Linked DNA regions of Homo sapiens. The protein of the gene in region 3 interacts with the protein of the main gene of each other region in a biochemical or structural test. Each region holds a gene or a part of one and is shown on either strand. Other genes may lie near its edges. The genes, in order: PRSS2, PARK7 and CSN1S1.

Region 1 (7,406 bases), on a different chromosome or scaffold from region 3:
TACATGGGTATACTGTGTGATGCTGAGGTTTGGGGCACAAATGATCTCCTCACTCAGGAACTGAGCACAGTACCCAATAGGTATTTTTTCAGCCCTTTCCACACTCCTTCTCTCTTCCCTCTAGTAGTTGCAGTGTCTACTCTTCCCATCTTTACATCCATTTTTACCCAATGCTCAGCTCCGACTTATACATGAGAACGTGATATTTGGTTTTCTGTTCCCATGTTAATTTGCTTAGGATTATGGTCTCCAGCTCCATCCATGTTGCTGCAAAGGACATGATTTCATTCTTTTCATGGCTGCATAGTATTCCATGGTGTATATGTACCACATTTTCTTTATCCAGTCTACCGCTGATGGCCACCTAGGTTGATTCCATGGCTTTGCTACTGTGAATAGTGCTGTGATGGACATGCAAGAGCATGAGTCTTTTTGGCAGAACAATTACTTTCCTTTAGGTAAATGCCCAATAAAGCAAGTGCTGGGTGGAAAGATAGTTCTGTTTTAAATTGTTTCAGAAATCTCCAAACGGTTTTCTACATTAATTTTTCCATGAACTGATTTACACTCTGGCCAACAGTGTACAAGCATTCCCTTTCCACTGCAGCCTCATGAGCATCTTCTATTCTGTGGACATTTTAATAATAACCACACTGCAGCCAAGCTCTTTCAAGCCCAATGTGGGGAACAGCCACAAACATCCCTTTTCCCAACGAGAATTCTTGCCTGCCCACTGGTAGAATTCTTGTTTTCAGCTGTCTTTCATTGTTTGCTTTTCAAAGAAAAACCAAAGGTAAAGTGGTATGATCTTCCACACGTGAACCAGTTTGTAGCCACCAGAGCCTGCTGGGAAGGGGCCCCTCACGCATGCATTGATCTTGTCATGTGGAATTTGAGAGATCTAGAAGCCCCACAGCAACCTACCATACAACTGCCTATCAGCGCTCATCCTTTCACAGGATTAGCTCAATTCTGGCTCTGCAGACACTGGCAGCCACGGGTGAGAAACCCTGGGCCTCTGTGGGCTTCCTTCATCACCCAGGGCCACAGTGGGCTGCCTGTCCTAGGCAGAGACACAGCAACATTCTCTTAAGCTGAAATTAAGCATAAACCCACTTCACCAATAATCATCTGAGGGCACAGTCCCTGCCTCCTTCCTTGGGGATTTTAAAACACACATCTCTCTGACCAAACAGGTAGGTGAGATCTGACTTTAAAGGGGGGAAAGTGGGATGAATTGGGGTATCAGGAATGAATCCCAAGTGTTTTTGTGTGGCGAATGGCATCCACATCCCAAAATATACTTGGAGATGGGGAAAAAAGCAGGAGAGGAGAAGGGTAAAAAAGGAGGACAAAGTGTCTGAAAGTCATTGAAAGCTTCTCTCATGGTTCTTTCTGGCTCTGGTTGCTTTGCCAAGGTCTTGAGTGCAGGCAGGGCTGGCTCTGGCTGGGAGCTGCTGCTCTGGAACATGGAAGAGTCACTTCACCTTCAGAAAGCTCATTTGCTCATCTGTAAAGTGGGCAATTCCATAGGTGGTTGTGATGATAAAATGAAAAAAAAGTTCTTAACTTATATGAGTGACATGCTGTATAGTAAGTTACATGCTATATAGGAAGCACACAGAAATGATTCACTGTTATGATAATGGAAGGACAGTGGTTTGGCATGTTAAGCACTAAACACAAGCCAGAAAGATATCTTAGAGAAGTAGACAAAGAAATCTATAGTTCAGAATGAACAGTACCAAGAATGACATGTCCCCCAAATTGAGCATGGGTAGCTGGATCTGAACCTATCCTACACATCTGAGTCTACAGTATGAGGTAACAGTCTTCACCTATAGCTATCTCCTCTGCCTGTAAGGTCATTCCTTTTTGAAGAAAGCTGACCTCAGACTATACTGTGATCGCTTAAGGAAGAGCACAAAATACTGGAGAAGGCTAGTCTTCAAGCTCTAGATACAGAAAATCCTCAATTCTTGGGTGTTACCTTTCAGAAAAAGAGTCAGAGCTACAAGCCCTGATCCAAAAATCCCTTTTTCCAAAAAAATTCTCCATCTTCTACCAAGGTTCACCTCCCTGTTTAGTGCACACTGGTGTCTATAGTTGCTAGAGCAAGAGTCTCTCCTTATCCTCTAAGGCAGGAGTTCTGTGAAGACCCCATGACAAGGGGACAAAATGAAATAACATGTTCAGCGACAACACAGCAAAACCCCATATTATCAATGCTCTAAAACCTAGCTACCTCAGGCTTGGCCAGTTATTCATGAGCAGAGAGGTGTGTCATCTACATGGCAGTCATGGCCTGGATGGGTCTGGAACTGTGGCAAGGTAAGGCTCTGAGAAAAGGTGCCAGGAGAAAGATGAATTCAATCATCTATTTCTGCCAGGAAGAAAAGCACCAGGAAGGAATCAGATGTACAGTTTGTCCTCTGGGGACCTCTGCCTTGATCCTCAATAAATCTCCTTTTAGATGCCACGTGCAGCAATTCCCACACTTCACAATGCTCTCCATGGCTTCTGTTGGCCTTATGGTCAGCTCTGCCAAGATCTGTATTCTTGGGCAAGACAGAATCCTTCTGAATCTCAGTCTCTTCCTCTATAAATGGAAATAATTTTGCTCCACACAAGTCACCATTAGCACGTTGGTGGGAAGTTAAACTGCGAAACTCAGCATAAACAAAGAGCAATGTACCACTGTTGCTTACGTGAAAACTCCCGTGAAGCAGTCAGGCACCATGCACCATCTAAGCATAGCAGCGTTAGGTATCAGCCTATTAGTGATTAGAGAGGGTACCGGGGAGAGAGGGGGCCTCAGAGCAGTGGGTCTCCTGGCTGTGGGGAAGCTGCCTCAGTGGCCATGCCAGGAGCTGAACCTGAAGGTACTCTGTGTGTCCTCTCAACACCATGGACCCTATTTTGGTATTTTTTTCCAGTTACCTCTGGTTTCCATTTGCTTCCTCCCTCTAGCCCCCTGGCCATGTCCGATTTCTCCAGCAAGTTTCTGAGCTTTTCTCATTTTGCTCACTGTCTCCAGAACATCCCTGCTTCTTTTACCTTTCAAAGAATTCAAACTTGAACTCTGCTCACTCCTGCCCATCACCAACATTAGCTCAGAGTTGATGAGAAGGGAAAGCACCCTCATAAGGAAGCCCCTCCTTTCCTTACATTATTAGACCTGAGCGCAGACAGCATCTCCATCTCCACACTGCTCTGGCCAGGTTATGCCTCAGTCAATTACACGACTGTATCTTAGTACCCTTGGTAGGGCTCAAATCAGGATATTCTCTAGAAAGATTCACTTAGTACTGAGCCAAGTATAATCTCACTACATCTAAAATAGAAAATTCTAGACCCACCCCTCCACATCTTTGTTATTGAACCCAATATGTCACCCATTTACCATGTGCTCAAATCCCTACCTACTGCTGATTCTCAGATCAAATCATAACCCAGATTTACCATGGTCCAAACTCTGACATGTGATCAGGGGCATGTCATTCTGGTTCAGGCTGTCAGCCCCAAGCAGGTGGGTCAGTTTCAATCACCCTGAGTGCAGGTTGCAAGGGCAACCATGAGGCTGCATAAAAAGAACCTATGACAGGATGCACATGAGAGACAAATGTCTTCACATTGAAGAAGGGGAGGAGTGCGCCATTGGTTTTCCATCCTCCAGATGCACTGAGTAAGCTCCTACCTAACCTGTGCCCCCTCCTTCTTCTCATCCCTATGCCGTGGTAGGAGGGAGAGCCATCTTCAAGCCCAGCATCCTATGGAATGCTGAGTCTCTCTTCTCCTTACCCCTTAATGTTGGAATTCTCATTCCCCAAAGCCTTGGATTTGACTTTCCCACTGAGTGACTGGAGAGAAGCATCTTCATATTCACAGGAACAAGCCTTAGTTAGATAAGACTTTGCCCCTCTCCTGGGAGCTCCAGGACACTAAAAAGCCAAGCTTGCTACCAACACTTGCCCTTCCTTAAGTACATTAAATATAACCCCAATAGTAAAATATATTCCTAAACAGCCAGGCCATTCTCCCTCCTTCTAACCCTCATCTCCTCGGCCTAAGAAAGCCCAGCTGTGTGATCTGGGGCTTGGCTTCCCCTGTCTTTCCCATATCAGCATCCTTCCAGGAAACAGCCGGTCTCCCTCTCTGCTCTCAGAAGGCAAGTTTCCTTATCACCTGTGAATCACAAACCCACAGAGTGGCCAAACATACTGATGCAAGACCATAGGAAGGGGAAAGCTGCAGGTGTGTTTGTGCTGGGAGGAGCAGTGACCCTCACCTCACAGACACCTCCTCTCCCCATCCTCGGGAGGTATAAAGACGGGTTCTCCACCAGCAATCAGGCACACTCTACCACCATGAATCTACTTCTGATCCTTACCTTTGTTGCAGCTGCTGGTGAGTTTCACGCCCTGCCTCAGGCCTCAACCAACCCTTCCCTGGCAGACACATGCCCTGCCATTCTTGCCACCTCTCCTCTTTTGACTGTGCTGTGATATTCTATTTCCTCCATCTGGCATTTCTTCTTCCCATCCTCCTTGGGCTCTTTTTAAGCCTCACTTGTTCCACCTTCTCCTTGATTTCACTCCCACCGCTGTTATTCATCCATATCCGAGCTGTGGTTGGAGAAGCTGGGAAGGGAGACCAGGTGGGGCTGGCCCATGAAATGAAGCAGTAGGCTTCAGGCTTGGCTCTGACAGCACCACAATAGCACCACTATAGCTGCTCTTAACCTCGAATGCACCTGGGGAGGTTGAAATTACTCATGCAAGACACTCAACTCTAGAAATTCTCACTTCAATTGTCTGGTGTGCAGCCTGTGTTCTGGGCTTTTAAGCTTCCCAGGTGATTTTTAACATTTCTAGGCATGCAGCCAAGGTTAAGAATTGCTGTTGTTTTGACCAATAATAACGTATACCTTTGTTCTGCAAAAGTGAGCCTGGGGCTTCCCTCAACTCTGCCCTCACTGGGCAGATTTGAGCTGAGGGGGAAACTGGTCATGGCCAAGTCGATGTCGCCAGGGGGTTTTCCTAGCTTGGCCAAAGTAGCCAGACAATCCGGGGCTTAAATAACCAGGTGGAGTACACAGGTGGTGAATAAAAGAGAGAAGACTTCAGTGCTTGAGACAGCCACATCCCAAATCCTATCCCACTGGAAGTATTGTGAGGATATTCCTTGCGTCCTCAGCCTGGTGACCCCAGGAGAGATCTGAACCCCCACAGGGTACCTAGCTACGTGCCCTGCAGACACAGAGACTTGGGAGCCACATCCAGTGATGATCACCAGGGCTGGCAGCGCTCCCCCCCTTGCCTAGCCTCACTGAGCTTGTTAAGGTTTTCTAATTAGCAGGAAGCAGCCACAGGCTGGGAGCGCCACCCCTAACATGCTACTGACTTGCCTTCTCCCTTCCCATCTCCACTCCAGTTGCTGCCCCCTTTGATGATGATGACAAGATCGTTGGGGGCTACATCTGTGAGGAGAATTCTGTCCCCTACCAGGTGTCCTTGAATTCTGGCTACCACTTCTGCGGTGGCTCCCTCATCAGCGAACAGTGGGTGGTGTCAGCAGGTCACTGCTACAAGTCGTAAGTGTGGGGCCCCTGACTGCAAAACTCCCAGCCAGGCTGCCTGGGAGAGCTTGGATTCAGCCCAGGGAAGTACTGAGGTTGGGTAGGACGGACGAGAGAGATGGTGGAAAAGAAAACTTGTTGGCAGCAGCTGACTCTCCAGAGCAGAGAGTGAACACAAGACAGGAAGCCCTCACACCCAGGCAAATCCATGAAACAGCAAGGGTTGTGGTCATAAAAGCAGGCAGGGATGATCTTGGGGTGGTGAGAGCTAGTGAGAAGAGCAGGCTAGTACTTTTGCTGGTTAGCTACACATTAAAGCCACCTAAGAATGAGTACTTAAAAATACTGATCCCTGTGTTCTATCCCAGGGCAATTAACTCAAAATTATCAGGAAGAGGGTGTGAATATCAGTGAGTATTTCACACTCTACCTCTGGTAACTGTAGAGTGTATAGACAGAGCTGAGAACTGCTGCCTACACCAAGAACTCTTAAACCTGAGTATGCATCAGAACTCCCTGCAGGCTTGTTAAGGCACAAATCACTGGGACCCATCCCCAAGGTTCTGATCAGTAGGTGGGGGTAAGGACCAAGAACTTACATTTCTAACAAATTCCCAGGAGATGCTAATGCTATGGCTACCCTTGGATTAGATTACACAGAAGGGTGGTGCTCACCAGGCCAAGAATGGAGGGAGGAGCAGGCACTGTGCACAGTTAGCAAAGGCCTGGAGTGAAGAATGTTGGGAAAACTTCAAGGAGCTCCTTGTGCCCACAGTGCTAGTGACATGGAGATTATGGGAAAGAGTCTGGGAAGGCAGATTGAGGAGCAGCCTCTGGTGGGATCCCTTTGACTCTTCCCCACTCCACTACCACCAACCTCTGAAGCAGAAAGGTCCTGGGTTTCACACCTGCACTGACCCACATTGCTCTCCTGCCCATGCAATATGGCCACACACCCCACCCCATGCCTCCAGAGCTGTCCATGAGCAGGGAGCTTAAGGACCCATGGAAAGGTGGGAGGGGTGCCCTGGCTGTGGGAGAAGGTCTTCACCATGCCTGCCCTGCCCATCAGCCGCATCCAGGTGAGACTGGGAGAGCACAACATCGAAGTCCTGGAGGGGAATGAACAGTTCATCAATGCGGCCAAGATCATCCGCCACCCCAAATACAACAGCCGGACTCTGGACAATGACATCCTGCTGATCAAGCTCTCCTCACCTGCCGTCATCAATTCCCGCGTGTCCGCCATCTCTCTGCCCACTGCCCCTCCAGCTGCTGGCACCGAGTCCCTCATCTCCGGCTGGGGCAACACTCTGAGTTCTGGTGGTGAGTGGGACCCTTTGTCCTTCTACTTCCCTCCATCCCACAATTTCCAGAACAAACCATGCCCCTTAACTTAAATCCTCTCGCCTCCAGGCTTAAGACACATTTCTAGTGCCCATTACACACAGGCTCTGCACTGGGCACCAGAGAGATGCAAATTCTCAAGGATGTGGCTCCTAAAATCAAAAGACAGGACAAATGGAGAACTTGCTATGATCACTTCGTGGGAGAGGTTCAACAATGATCATTCTGGGAACTAAAAGCCAGAGTCCCTTGCCAGGACTTATGTTTTGGAGTCCTCTCCAGGGGCAGTGTTCCTCTTCAATGTTCCATCCTAGACTATTGTCTCTTTCTCTGGCCTAACCCACATTTCTTTCTTTGTTCTCTTCCTGATCCTCACAGCCGACTACCCAGACGAGCTGCAGTGCCTGGATGCTCCTGTGCTGAGCCAGGCTGAGTGTGAAGCCTCCTACCCTGGAAAGATTACCAACAACATGTTCTGTGT
Region 2 (7,544 bases), on a different chromosome or scaffold from region 3:
CCCTCCTTGGTTCTAGAAGCACACATCTGACCACTTGTCTTTCCTCTTTCTCTGTCATTCCTGTTTTCCACACTCCTTCACAGCTGCTTCCTTTGCAAATAGCCAAAAGTGAAGTCATTCCAGAACTCCTAAAAGTTTCTTCTTAAATGTCATATGATTAAAGACATTTCAGACTTTTGCACAAGTTCAGTGTTCATCAATTATTCACATTTTTTTTTTTTTTTTTTAGAGACACAGTCTCACTCTGTCATCCAGCCTGGAGTGCAGTGGCATGAGATCATGACCCACTGCAGCCTTGACCTCCTGGGCTCAAGTGATTCCCCCGCTGCGCTGTCAGCCTCTCAAGTAGCTGGGACCCATAGGCGTGTAATTTTTAAAATTTTTTGTAGAGACAGGGTCTTGCCATGTTGTCCAGGCTGGTCCCCAACTCCTGGGCTCAAACAATCCTCCCGCCTCGGCCTCCCAGAGTGTTGGGATGAGACACCCCGCACAGCTCCAATTTTTAAAATTAAATAAAATAACACACTCACCATCATTGTAAGAATCACATGAAATATACCAAAGTGCTTTGTAAACTAACAAAAAATTTATTTCTTGAAATAAATGTGGCCAGGTGCAGTGGCTCACAACTGTAATCCCAGCACTTTGGGAGGCCGAGGTGGGCAGATCACTTGAGGTCAGGAGTTTGAGACCAGTTTGGCCAACATGGTGAAACCCCGTCTCTAATAAAAATACAAAAATTAGTTGGGCATGATGGTGCACGCCTGTAGTCCCAGCTACTCGGGAGACTGAGGTACGAGAATTGCTTGAACCTGGGAGACAGAGGTTGCAGTGAGCCGAGATGGTGCCACTACACGCCAGCCTGGATGACAGAGCAAGACTCTGTCTCAAAACAAAAACAAAAACAAAACAAAGAAAATAAACGTGATTTTTTTTTTTTTTTTGAGACAAGAGTCTCGCTCTGTCACCCAGGCTGGAGTGTAGTGGTGCGATCTCAGCTCACTTCAGCCTCCGCCTCCCAGGTTCAAGCAATTCCCCTGCTTCAGCCTCCCGAGTAATTGGGACTACAGGTGCAAGCCACCATGCCCAGCTAATTTTTGTATTTTTAGTAGAGACCGGGTTTCACCATGTTGGCCAGGATGGTCTCGATCTCTTGACCTCGTGATCTGCCCACCTTGGCCTCCCAAAGTGCTGGGATTACAGGCACGCACCACCGCGCCTGGCCAGAAACGCGATTTTAATATCTAAATTGAAACCTTAAAAACACTGATGTATTTAGGCCAGGTGCTGTGGCTCACACCTGTAATCCCAGCACTGTGGGAGGCCGAGGTGGGCAGATCACTTGAGGTCAGGAGTTTGAGACTAGCCTGGCCAACATGGTGAAAGCTCATCTCTACTAAAAATACAAAAATTAGCCAGGCATGATGGCAGGTGCCTGCAATCCCAGCTACTCTAGAGGCTGAGGTGGGAGAATTGCTTGAACCTGGGAGGCGGAGGTTGCAATGAGCTGAGATTGCACCATTGCACTCCAGCCTGGGCAACAGAGCGAGACTCTGTCTCAAAAAAAAAAAAAAAAGAAAAGAAAAGAAATTACTAGAAGAAAACACTGGGGGGGGGGGGGCCAGGCACGGTGGCTCACACCTGTAATCCCAGCACTTTGGGAGGCTGAGGCAAGTGGATCACCTGAGGTTAGGAGTTCGAGACCAGCCTGGGAAACATGGTGAATCCCTGTCTGGACTAAAATACAAAAATTAGACAGGCATGATGGAGGGTGCCTGTAATCCCAGATACTCGGGAGGCTGAGACAGAGAATCGCTTGAACCCAGGAGACAGTGGTTGCAGTGAGCCAAGATTGCGCCACTGCACTCCAGCCTAGGCGGCTGAGCGAGACTCCATCTCAAAAAAAAAAAAAAAAGAAAAGAAAAGAAAGAAAACACTGGGGAAATGTTCCAGGGTATTGATCTGGGCAAAGACCTCAAAGCACAGACAACAAAAGCAAAAACAGACAAATGGAATTACATCAAACTAAAAAGTATATGCACAGCAAAGGAAACAACAAAGCAAAGAGACAACACACAGAATGGGAGAAAATATTTGCAAACTATCCATTTGATGAGGGACTAATGACTAGAATATATTAGGAGCTCAATAGCAAGAAAACAATCAGATTTAAAAGTGGGCAAAAGATCTGAATAGACATTTCTGAAGAGATACAAATGGCCAAGAGATATGAAAAAGGGCTCAATGTCACTAATCAGAGAAATGCAAATAAAGACAGTAAGATATCATCTCATCCCAGTTAAAATGGCCTTTATCAAAAAGGGAATAACATGCTGAGATGGATGTGAAGAAGGAACCTCATACACTGTTGGCGAGCATCTCAATTAGTGCAGCCACTATGGAAAACAATATGGAATCCTCAGAAGATTAACTTCTGAGAAATCATAAGTTCTGGAATCATAACTACCATATGATCCAGCAATCCCACTACCGGTATATACCAAAAAGAAAGGAAGGGCCAGGCACGGTAGCTCACGCCTATAATCCCAGCACTTTGGGAGGCCGAGGCAGGCAGATCACTTGGGGTCAGGAGTTCAAGACCAGCCTGGCCAACATAGTAAAACCCTGTCTCTACTAAAAATACAAAAATTAGCCAGGCATGGTGGCACACACCTGTAGTCTCAGCTACTCGAAAGACTGAGGCACGAGAATTGTTTCAACACAGAGGCAGAGGTTGCAGTGAGCCAAGATGGTGCCACTGCACTTCAGGCTAGGCGACAGAGCAAGATGGAGTCTCAAAAAAAAAAAAAAAGAAAGAAAATCAATATATCAAAGAGATATTTGCACTCCTATGCTTATTGTAGCACTGTTCACAACAGTCAAAATATGGAATCAACCAAAATGTTCATCAATGGATGACTGGATAAATAAAATGTAAATATACACAATGAATACTATTCAGCCATAAAAAATAATAAAATCCTATTTGCAACAACATTGATGGAACTGGAGGTCATTATGTTAAGTGAAACAAGCCAGGCAAAGAAAGACAAGCATCACATGATTTCACTCATAAATGGGAAGTTGAAAAGTGGATATCATGAAGATAAGTTGGTGGTTACCAGAGGCCAGGAAGGGTAGCCAGGAGAAGGGGATGAACAGGGTGATTAATAGGTACAAAAATTGGTAGAAGTGCTGGGCAAGGTGTCAAGAGCCCCAGCATCAGAAAGTGGTCGACTTGCTGGTTGGTAAGAAGAATTTATCGACAACAATATAGGTTTGAAAAAGGAAAGTTTTATTAGAACGCTGCAGAAGAGTGCAGCCTCAGCAAGAGAGAACTGAGCATGCCGCGGTGGATTTTTCATGTCCCTTTTCGAATGTCTCATTTTTTGCAAATTCAATCCAAGTTGCGTTCATTTAGCCAGGATCCTTCTAAGCTCATTCAAGAATTTTGGGCTTTAACTATTTCCTTTGATTTAACCTGGTACCAGGTGCCAACTTTAGATAATAGGGATATCTAATTACTTCTAAATTCCTCAGATAAGGGGCCTGCTTGATGGTCACCAGGTGATCTGTGCTCTCCTTAAGAGGGAATAAGACCTAGCGTTGGCAGAGTTCTGTAGGGTGACTATAGTTAACAGTAATCTGTTGTATATTTTAAAATGTTATTATTGAAGAGAGTAACTGGAATGTTCCCAGTATAAAGACAAATGTTTAAGGTGATAGAGATCTCATTTACCCTGATTTAATCATTACACATTATATGAAAGTATCAAAATACCACATGTACCCAGAAAACACATACGTCTCTTACATATCAATAAATACAACTTGAGATTATGATGTAAATACATCTGACCAACTTGGTACTTATTAGACTTATGTGCGCAGCACTGCTCTAGTCCTGTGGGTGCAGCAGCATCAGGATCGTTAAAGAAAACAAACAATGCTGAGAAAAAAACTCACACCCCTGAGACATCCGGGTGTGAATAAATGCGGCAGAGTCGCCCGAGATCGGGAGACCAGGCGTGGGGGAGAGGTCCGGGAGGCCTGGACCAGAGTCCTAACAGACCAGAGGCGAAACGGGAAGGCGCGCCAGAAAAGGAACAACGCAAAGGGAGCAGGCGTGCACGGAGCGCGAACTAAGGAACCCCTCTGACAACCCCAGTCCCTCGGCAGTTCCAGAGACCGGCTCCTCACGGAGGGTGGCGGTAGAGACTGTTAAGCCCCGCGGGCGCCGGGGCAGGCCGGACTGTGCCATTCGTGGGGGGTACCATGTGGGACCGAGCCGCCTCACCCAGGGCTGTCCAGCTAGAAACTCCCCGGTGCCACCCCCGCCTCAGTCCGAGGTAGACTCGGCCGGACGTGACGCAGCGTGAGGCCAAGGCGGCGTGAGTCTGCGCAGTGTGGGGCTGAGGGAGGCCGGACGGCGCGCGTGCGTGCTGGCGTGCGTTCATTTTCAGCCTGGTGTGGGGTGAGTGGTACCCAACGGGCCGGGGCGCCGCGTCCGCAGGAAGAGGCGCGGGGTGCAGGTCAGCGCCAGCGGGGGCGCGGCGCATGTGTGGGCCGTGGCGCTGGGCGGCGTGGGGGTGCTGGACGGTGTCCCTGTGCTGGACGGTGTCCCGCTGGCTCAGAACCGGCGCGGGGCCTGGGTCGGGGCCGCCCTCGCTTCCGGCCTCCCAGTCGGGCCCTGTCGCTGGCGTTGGATTTGACTGACCGCCAGCGTGGTGGCAACGCTGAAGCGTCCAGAATCTTCTGCCTAACCTCTCGCCGGCATGGAACTGGCTAGCCGTTTTATTAAACTCTGTTTTGCGTGGACGGTAAACCCTCCAGATAATCTGTAAATAGGCTAAAAAAAATTCGGAACCTCGTTGAGCTGCTGTCGTTGGCAGTGAGAACTCCGCGCAGAGAGACAGATGTAGTTGGGTTGACTTCAGTGAGGGGATTTCCATCTTTCTCAGTCATTAAAAAAAGTGTTCAGACATTTAACACTGTTGACCCCCACACACAATTTTTTAGTACAGTTATAACTAAGAAAACAAAAATCCCCTCCAAAAAATTACAAGTTAATTGCGAAAGACCACATTTAAATTTTTGCCCATGAAATTCAGTTTAGTCGTTTCTCTGAAACAGTGCTTCAAAAAAGACTGTTTCCCCGCATTGTGTGAAATGCAGGAGACCCACGTACTTGTATTTTTAAAAAACCCATTTGCAACATACTATTAAAGTTGGATTTAAGAGAACATGGTAGAAGAAAATCTAAGCAATACTACACCTTTTAGCACCCTCATTATGTTTTCATCTCAGAGCAATTAAAACTGCTATACAAATCAACGTTAAGATAACTAAACTGCTGCTTTTTTCGTATTCAGTTGTCTATGAAAACCGTTTCCCTAGGAAGTACTTACTCTGCTTGAAAATGCTCCTAAACTTTAAATTTTGGGGTATCTCAGGGTTGCAATGAAAGTTTTTTGAAATCTTTTTTTTTTTTTTTTTTTAAGGCTTGTAAACATATAACATAAAAATGGCTTCCAAAAGAGCTCTGGTCATCCTGGCTAAAGGAGCAGAGGAAATGGAGACGGTCATCCCTGTAGATGTCATGAGGCGAGCTGGGGTAAGTCCCACATCGATTTTTAGCCATTCCTGTTTTAAATGTTTTTGGATTTTTAAATCATTTTGAATAAAATATTCAAAGTGCTCTATGAAATATTTCAAATATACACAAAATTTCAGAGATGACATAAGAATAAATACCTGTTGATCCACTGCTCACATTTAACGCTTGTTAATGTCTTGCCATATTTCCTTCAGACCCATTTCTCTTTTGTTTTGAGCTCTGTCGTCCAGGCTGGAGTGCGATGGCAGGATCTTGGCTCATTTCGGTCTCTGCCTCCTGGGCCCAAACCATCTTCCCACCTCAGCCTCCCAAATAGCTGAGACTACAGATGCGTGCCACCACACCTGGCTAATTTTTGTATGTTTTGTAGAGACAGGGTTTTGCCATGTTGCCCAGGCTGCTCTCCAACTCCTGAGCTCAAGTTGTCCACCCGCCTCAGGCCTCCCAAAGTGTTAGGACTACAGGCGTGAGCCACTGCACTGTCCTTAGACCCATTTCTTTTTTCTTCTTTTTTTTTTTTTTTGAGATGGTGTCTCTCTGTGTCGCTCAGCCTGGAACGCAGTGGTGTGATCTCTGCTCGCTGCAACCTCTGCCTCCCGGGTTCAAGAGATTCTCCTGCCTCACCCTCAGCTGGGATTACAGGTGTCCGCCACCACGCCCGGCTAATTGTATTTTTAGTACAGATGGGGTTTCACCATGTTGGCCAGGTTGGTCTCGAACTCCTGGCTTCAAGTGACCCGCCCGCCTTAGCCTTTTACAGTGCTGGGATTACAGGCAGGAGCCACCATGCCCGGCCCCTCAGACTCGTTTCTTAAAGAGCAGATGCTTCAAAGAAATACATTTGAAGCCCCCTTTGTAAATTTCTCCAATCCTATGCCCCTTCTTCCTTCCTTAAAGATAAGTGCTATCCTCGCACTCTTGTGTATCCATGCATGTGTGTCTTTTTTTTTTTTTTTAAGACAGAGTCTTGCTCTGTCACCCAGGCTGGAGTGCAGTGGTGTGACCTCAGCTCACTGCAACTTCTGCCTCCTGGGTTCAAGCAGTTCTCTGCCTCAGCCTCCCAAGTAGCTGGGATTACAGGTGCGCACCACCATGCCTGGCTAATTTTTTGTATTTTTAGTAGATGGGGTTTCACCATCTTGGCCAGGCTGGTCTTGAACTCTTGACCTCGTGATCCACCCACCTCGGCCTCCCAAAGTGCTGTGATTACAGATGTGAGCTACTGCACCCGCCCCCACGCATGTCTTTAAGGTAGCATTTGACCGTGGTTCTCATTTTGCGTGTTTATATATTATCTCTCTCTATCTAAAAATAGTGAACAGTGAAGTGAAGTAGAACTAACTCTGTGCCAGGCAGCATTCTAAGTGCCGATAAACCTTACAACAATGTCGTGAGTTAGATATCACCATCCTCATTTTACAGTTGAAGAAACTGAGGCACAGAGACATAAATAATGTACCCACATCACGTAGTAAGTACAAAAGCCAGAACTCAGACCCAGGCAGCCTGGCCCCAGAGTCTGTTAACCCTATACTCCTCTGGTTCTCAGAAATGAAGATACATGTCGATTAAGTTTATCCACTTAAAATTGCTGCTTGGTGTTGCACTGAATGCCACAATCTACCCATTCCTCTAATTACAGCATTACAATTCTGTAATACGTATTCTTGTGTAGGTTTCTTTGTGCAAATGTGAGGAAATTTTTCCAGGTTATATATCTAAAAGTAGAATGACTAGGCCGAAGGATAGCCTGTAGTCAGCATGACTAGGTTTTGCCAAGTTGCTCTCCAGTGTCCCAGTTTGTAGTCCCACCAGCAGTGTAGGAAAATTCCCACTTTCCCAGTGCCAGCTCTTGGTATTGTTGACTTTAAAAATTTTTGAAAGATAAAGCAGTATTTCGTTGTTTGGACTTGCATTTCTATTTTAC
Region 3 (7,409 bases):
TGACAGGCATGACGCACCATGCCTGGCCACATTACAGATTTTAAAAACCCTGGATTTTGAGTTCATGAAAATTTCCAGAGCTGTTATGTAAATTCACTAAGAGGTGGTTTGCCTTATGATGTAAATTAGACATTTGTCATTGTTTAATTGATCCCCTGTGATGTCAAGGCTTCTTATTATCAAATTCATCTAAGGGGCCTTGTCTGGTATGGCCCACAGTCTTAGTTGTCCTCAGGTACTCCATACTCCGGAGGCCCTGTTCAAATCTCTGTTTTTGGACTATTTGTAAAAATTAAAATTCTTTACTTTTTGTGTGTTAATTATCCATCACACTTTGAGGCTGGAAATTTTGTATTGCTCAAATTTTATGTCTGCAATACCTTGTCCAGCACTTTCATCTTTCTGAATAAATAAGTAAATAAATGAATAAACAAATGAGGATACAGATTCTTTTCATAAATTACAGAAGATTTTTATATAGCTTGATTTTTTTCTTTTTTTATTATTATACTTTAAGTTCTAGGGTACATGTGCACAATGTGCAGGTTTGTCACATATGTATACATGTGCCATGTTGGTGTGCTGCACCCATTAACTCATCATGTACATTAGGTACATCTCCTAATGCTATCCCTCCCTCCTCCCCCACCCCACGACAGGCCCCTGTGTGTGATGTTCCCCTTCCTGTGTCCAAGTGTTCTCATTGTTCAATTCTCACCTATGAGTGAGAACATGTGGTGTTTGGTTTTCTGTCCTTGCAATAGTTTGCTGAGAATGACGGTTTGCAGCTTCATCCATGTCCCTACAAAGGACATGAACTCATCCTTTTTTATGGCTGCATAGTATTCCATGGTGTATATGTGCCACATTTTCTTAATCCAGTCTATTATTGTTGGTCATTTGGGTTGGTTCCAAGTCTTTGTTATTGTGAATAGTGCCGCAATAAACACACGTGTGCATGTGTCTTTATAGCAGCATGATTTATAATCCTTTGGGTATATTCCCAGTAATGGGATGGCTGGGTCAAATGGTATTTCTAGTTCTAGATCCTTGAGGAATTGCCACACTGTCTTCCACAATGGTTGAACTAGTTTACAGTCCCACCAACAGTGTGAAAGTATTCCTATTTCTCCACATTCTCTCCAGCACCTGTTGTTTCCTGACTTTTTAATGATCACCATTCTAACTGGTGTGAGATGGTATCTCATTGTGGTTTTGATTTGCATTTCTCTGATGGCCAGTGATGATGAGCATTTTTTCATGTGTCTGTTGGCTGCATAAATGTCTTCTTTTGAGAAGTGTCTGTTCATATCCTTCACCCACTTTTTGATGGGGTTGTTTGTTTTTTTCTTGTAAATTTGTTTGAGTTCTTTGTAGATTCTGGATATTAGCCCTTTGTCAGATGAGTAGATTGCAAAAATTTTCTCCCATTCTGTAGGTTGCCTGTTCACTCTGATGGTAGTTTCTTTTGCTGTGCAGAGGCTCTTTAGTTTAATTAGATCCCATTTGTCAATTTTGGCTTTTGTTGCCATTGCTTTTGGTGTTTTAGACATGAAGTCCTTGCCCTTGCCCATGCCTATGTCCTGAATGGTATTGCCTAGGTTTTCTTCTAGGGTTCTTATGGTTTTAGGTCTAATATTTAAGTCTTTAATTCATCTTGAATTAATTTTTGTATAAAGTGTAAGGAAGGGATCCAGTTTCAGCTTTCTACACATGGCTAGCCAGTTTTCCCAGCACCATTTATTAAATAGGGAATCCTTTCCCCATTTCTTGCTTTTGTCAGGTTTGTCAAAGATCAGATGGTTGTAGATGTGTAGTGTTAATTCTGAGGGCTCTGTTCTGTTCCATTGGTCTATATCTCTGTTTTGGTTCCAGTACTATGCTGTTTTGGTTACTGTAGCCTTGTAGTATAGTTTGAAGTCAGGTCATATGATGCCTCCAGCTTTGTTCTTTTGGCTTAGGACTGACTTGGCAATGCGGGCTCCTTTTTGGTTCCATATGAACTTTAAAGTACTTTTTTTTCCAATTCTGTGAAGGAAGTCATTGGTAGCTTGATGGGGATGGCATTAAACCTGTAAATTACCTTGGGCATTATGGCCATTTTCACAATATTGATTCTTCCTATCCATGAGCATGGAATGTTCTTCCATTTGTTTGTGTCCTCTTTTATTTCATTGAGCAGTGGTTTGTAGTTCTCCTTGAAGAGGTCCTTCACATTCCTTGTAAGCTGGATTCCTAGGTATTTTATTCTCTTTGAAGCAATTGTGAATGGGAGTTCACTCGTGATTTGGCTGTTTGTCTGTTATTGGTATAAGAATGCTTGTGATTTTTGTACATTGATTTTGTATCCTGAGACTTTGCTGAAGTTGTATATCAGCTTAAGGAGATTTTGGGCTGAGATGATGGGATTTTCTAAATATACAATCATGTCATCTGCAAACAGGGACAATTTGACTTCCTCTTTTCCTAATTGAATGCCCTTTATTTCCTTCTCTTGCCTGATTGCCCAGGCCAGAACTTCCAACACTGTTGAATAGGAGTGGTGAGAGAGGGCATCCCTGTCTCGTGACAGTTTTCAAAGGGAGTGCTTCCAGTTTTTGTCCATTCGGTATGATACTGGCTGTGGGTTTGTCATAAATAGCCCTTATTATTTTGAGATATGTCTCATCAATCCCGAATTTATTGAGAGTTTTTAGCATGAAGGGCTATTGAATTTTGTCAAAGGCCTTTTCTGCATCTTTTGAGATAACCATGTGGTTTTTGTCCTTGGTTCTGTTTATATGCTGTATTACGTTTATTGATTTTTGTATGTTGAACCAGCCTTGCATCCCAGGGATGAAGCCCACTTGATCATGGTGGATAAGCTTTTTGATGTGCTGCTGGATTTGGTTTGCCAGTATTTTATTGAGGATTTTTGCATCGATGTTCATCAGGGATATTGGTCTAAAATTCTTTTTCTGTTGTGTCTCTGCCAGGCATTGATATCAGGATGATGATGGCCTCATAAAATGAGTTAGGGAGGATTTCCTCTTTTTCTATTGATTGGAATAGTTTCAGAAGGAATGGTACCAGCTCCTCCTTGTACCTCTGGTAGAATTCGGCTGTGAATCCATCTGGTCCTGGCCTTTTTTTTGGTTGGTAGGTATAGCTTGATTTTGAGTTAGGAGTAAAATAAATCAGTTTTCCTGGGTACACTTCTGGGAAAAGACAAAACCAAGGTACTGTAATACAGCTGATGCTTGTCTCAGCCTCTTAAATGAATCACAGTGAATAGGAAACACTAGTAAGTTGTTGAAATTTATGTGATGTAGTCAGTAAGGAAAACACTAACTAAAGAGAACTTTAATATGGAAAAGTACATCTCTTCTGATCCCCAATCTGAAATTAACCAGTCTGAAATGTGTGTTAACCCAGAATAATGCCCTTTTCATATGACTGTGAAAAGGCTGTAAATATCATTACTATTTTTTTATTTCCTAAAATATATAGTATGATTCTTTTCCTGTAAAAAAGCAAAGTCGCAGTCAACAACAATTTTTAAAAACCCTCTCTATTACAGATATTTTCCTCAGGATATAGTATTTTTCTACATTGTATAATGATAGTTAACATAAAGGAACAGAGTCTGGGATAGGAGAGAGGCATTTTCATTTCTTTCCTTTATTTACTTTTAAAAAACAGGAAATCAGAGGTATGGCATAATTTTCCAAAATCTTTTAAAATTAAAATTAATGAATAAATATTACTTCTAATTAGTCAATGTTATAATTTGTTAAATAAATACTATCACAACCAATATGCCTAAAAGAAAGCAAACAAAAAATTGTCTGCTGTAGCTTAAATATCACCAAAACACATAGGACAGTTGGATATCCTTCTTTGAAAAAAAGATCAGAGCATATACAGTATAAGTTAATCCATAAAGCAGATAGTCACAATAAATAATAGAGGACAAGCTGCATTTTAAAAGGTAAATAAATGATGAATTCTTTTAATGGCCTGGTACACTGATAGAAATTGGAACGTTTCTAAGACCCTATTTTGTCCCCAGGATTTCCATTATAGGAATTGAATTTTTCAAAAGATATACAGAGAATTTTATTAATATGTTCCTGTCAAATTATCCCTTCAACATAAAATCATGTTTTTATAATAGCCATAAATTTGGAAATTTTTGTATTTTAATTTGCAATAATGCCACTTTATTTCTTGTGTAATCTGTTATCATAGCATGAATCACTCCCTGTTGAAAATTCTCAGAATTTCCTGGGAAAGGAATTGGACAGAAAATTAGTTTCCTATTTGGGAGAATTCTTAGAATTTAAATAAACCTATTGGTTGAACTGAAACCACAAAATTAGCATTTTCTAATTACCACATTTAAATAGCGTAAAGCAAAGAGATCGGCCATCATCTTGGTCATCAACACAACTTGCTTCTCTCCAGACTTGGGCTTAAGGTACTGCGTTTACATACAGCAAAATTGCTATCATTTTACATTATCTAATCTCTTTCTTCCACTGTTTACTAAGTATATTTGTACCATTTCCATATGTTTGCAAATATTAAAACTTCTTATGATTTTCTGGCACCTTAAAAATCCTTTTGCAAATTCTGATACCATTTTACAGCTTTAGGTGATGAATCAATACAGTTTTATAAAAATACCAAATCATTTTTTGATAATTTTGTAACTAAAATATATTTTTAAAGTTGATACATAATTTCAGTAGAGGCTTGGGGTAAGCTAATTTAAATTATTTTTACCTAATTCTATGAGAAGTTGTTATGCAAATAATTTCTTATTTTTGTAATTACCATAGCAAAAACCATTTCTAGCAGAATAGTTCAAGGCCATTTTTGTTTCATGTCATTTGGGCAACAAAATTAACTCTACAATGTGAATATCTATTATAGATAATTAGCTATTGATGGCTACTTTGTAATGATTATTAAATTTAGATATTCAGAAAGACACAAATAGTAAATTTATTTGGGTTCAAAAATATGCCTTTTTTATTAACACATTTAGATTCTAAAATTTGTAGACTGAAGCAATATATATAAATGTCAGCATTTGTATGTTGATTAAGGTGTGAACAAATAGTATGTGTGACCTGATTTTTTTTCTAATGATTTCTCTGGAAACCATTTTCCCAGTACATGTGGATGTCCATATTTCGGGGTTCTTGCAATTTAATGAAACTCTGGAAATCAAATATAAGACATGTCAATATTTTGATTCTATCCAATTCAATCATCTTTATATATTTATGTCATGAATATTCCAATGTAGCAAAACACGAAGTTATGGCTAGATTCTTTATTTAAAAATTGAAAGAGATCAATAGCTTTTACATAACGTGCAGACAGGATTTTTCATGAAGACTCTAAAAGAAAAGAATGCTCTCAAATAGATTTAAAAGAGAAGCTCATTTTCAAAACTTTTCAATAAAATTAAATTCCAGTTCTCAGTGGATTTAACTTTATTGCCCACTTTAGAAAATCTGATTTGTCATCTAGGAGGAAAAGTGTTTTCTTTTTTCAATTGTATTTCAATATTAGCACTTCTTTATTTCTCTAAGCCATATTATTACATTAAGAACAAAATGTTATGTTTTAAAGTGTTAGTGAAGAAAAATGTTTGTAAGAAATTAGTATTTCTAAATAATATAAGAACTAAGAAAAATAACTAGAATGGTAAACATTGATATTGAGTAGTAAAGTTTTTAAAATCTTAAGTTTATAAAAATTCACATTACAGCTCCTCAAATCAGCCTACTTTTATCATAATTTGCTCCTTTGTTGAAAAATCAAGAATTTTTTTCAGGAAACAAATTTAACGTAATAATATCTAACTCTTTCTTTTTTGTTCTCTTACATAGGCTCTGATAACCATGAGGCTTCTCATTCTCACCTGTCTTGTGGCTGTTGCTCTTGCCAGGCCTGTAAGTTCAGTAGAGAATTTAGAAAGTCTTAGACTCTTGTTAGAAATGACCTGACACTTCATCAAACATAGGATACCCAGAGAAATAATCTTAAAGCACTGGATGATCTCTAATTGGCCTCTGAAGTCTTGACAATAGAAATGCAGTAATGCTTCACATTTTCATCATTATTGCATAGTCCACTGAGAGCCTTAACTCTGAATAAAATGTCTGACTTGAATTATAAGCACCCCACAATAAAAAAGAGCTAAAAATTTAAAAGTAAGAAAAAGAATAAGGTAATGCACAACATAATAAATAGCAACAAACAATGTGATTAGGCCTGTTCCTTGAGTCTACTACAAAATTCTCATATTTCTAAAAATGTAATAGTTGTCCAACATTTCTTTACCAAATATAACACAAAGCCACATGTTCCAATGTATCCTACTTTTGGAATCAAAATCAAACCCTTATTTGAGATGGCTTGTGTCAACTTTTCTTCCCCCAAGAAGGGATAGAAAACTAGGGTGATTCAGCTAATTGAGTGATCAATTTATTGTGGTCACTGTAGACAATGAAACTAGATAATGTGAATTAAAATTACCTTTCTTCTCAAAAAGAGTGTTTATATCAATTAGATAAGTATGTGAACCAAAAAGTTTTCTCTGTTCTCTCCTGTTATGTGTAGTTAATGAATGAGAAGAATAAACAGGAATCACCTGACTGGAAAAAACATCAGTTTAGAGGGATGATAAGGGATATTTGGACACTGAAATTATCTCATACAGAAGAAAAATTTCTGAAATGCAGATATAGCCTGTCATTTACACTGACAGACTTGTTCTCTAAATTCTCCTTTGGAAAGTGCAGAATCAGGAATTGTCAACTTCTGAACCAATAGTCTTTGTTTATGCTATAAACTAAGCATCAATAGAAAGAAATCTCTGCTTGCAAGTTACCAAAACAATGATAAAACTTCCTCAGGAATGAACTGTCTGAGCAGTTCTTATCTTGTCATTCTACCAGGAAGTGGGGAAAAGCAGCCCAGAAAATAGATGTTACACTTTTATTCCAAAGCAAACAATAGGGTTCTTTATTTGTTTATGTCACTGTTTAACGTGGTCTTGTCTCCACACTCAAAATGCAGAATGAGATCAATTTTCGTATAATTTAAGTGATGATAAAAATAAAACCCAGAAAGCGTTTGAATTAGGAAATTATATTTTGCCCAACATTTTTTATACTAGTTTAAAATCATCTTTAGAACTATGGTGTAATATATATAGTTCAGAAAACTAAATAAATTGTTTATTATTCTGGATTCAAACTAACCCAGAATTTTTACTTTTTTAAAGATGTTTTACATAGTTTTCTCAACTACCAGCCATAATCTAAAGAAAGGAAATGATTATTTTCCTTTGATATTTGTCTAAAAATAATTATGATTTCTTTTTTTTTCCCTGTAGTCCCAGAGAAACT

The links.
Region 1: of the proteins of CSN1S1 (region 3) and PRSS2, one has a biochemical effect on the other in vitro, tested with the Homo sapiens proteins (one study listed by BioGRID).
Region 2: of the proteins of CSN1S1 (region 3) and PARK7, one has a biochemical effect on the other in vitro, tested with the Homo sapiens proteins (one study listed by BioGRID).

What each region holds. Positions count from the first base shown.
Region 1 is NC_000007.14:142,766,616-142,774,021, forward strand, and holds the start of PRSS2 (trypsin-2 isoform 2 preproprotein), read left to right. Parts: upstream 1-4,354; 5' UTR 4,355-4,367; coding exon 4,368-4,407; intron 4,408-5,433; coding exon 5,434-5,593; intron 5,594-5,946; coding exon of another isoform or gene 5,947-5,988; intron 5,989-6,650; coding exon 6,651-6,904; intron 6,905-7,303; coding exon 7,304-7,406. UniProt on the Homo sapiens protein: In the ileum, may be involved in defensin processing, including DEFA5.
Region 2 is NC_000001.11:7,957,262-7,964,805, forward strand, and holds the start of PARK7 (Parkinson disease protein 7), read left to right. Parts: upstream 1-4,449; 5' UTR 4,450-4,532; exon of another isoform or gene 4,533-4,820; intron 4,821-5,501; 5' UTR 5,502-5,524; coding exon 5,525-5,614; intron 5,615-7,544. UniProt on the Homo sapiens protein: Multifunctional protein with controversial molecular function which plays an important role in cell protection against oxidative stress and cell death acting as oxidative stress sensor and redox-sensitive chaperone and protease.
Region 3 is NC_000004.12:69,926,659-69,934,067, forward strand, and holds the start of CSN1S1 (alpha-S1-casein isoform 1 precursor), read left to right. Parts: upstream 1-4,409; 5' UTR 4,410-4,459; intron 4,460-5,885; 5' UTR 5,886-5,897; coding exon 5,898-5,948; intron 5,949-7,409. UniProt on the Homo sapiens protein: Important role in the capacity of milk to transport calcium phosphate. Casoxin D acts as opioid antagonist and has vasorelaxing activity mediated by bradykinin B1 receptors.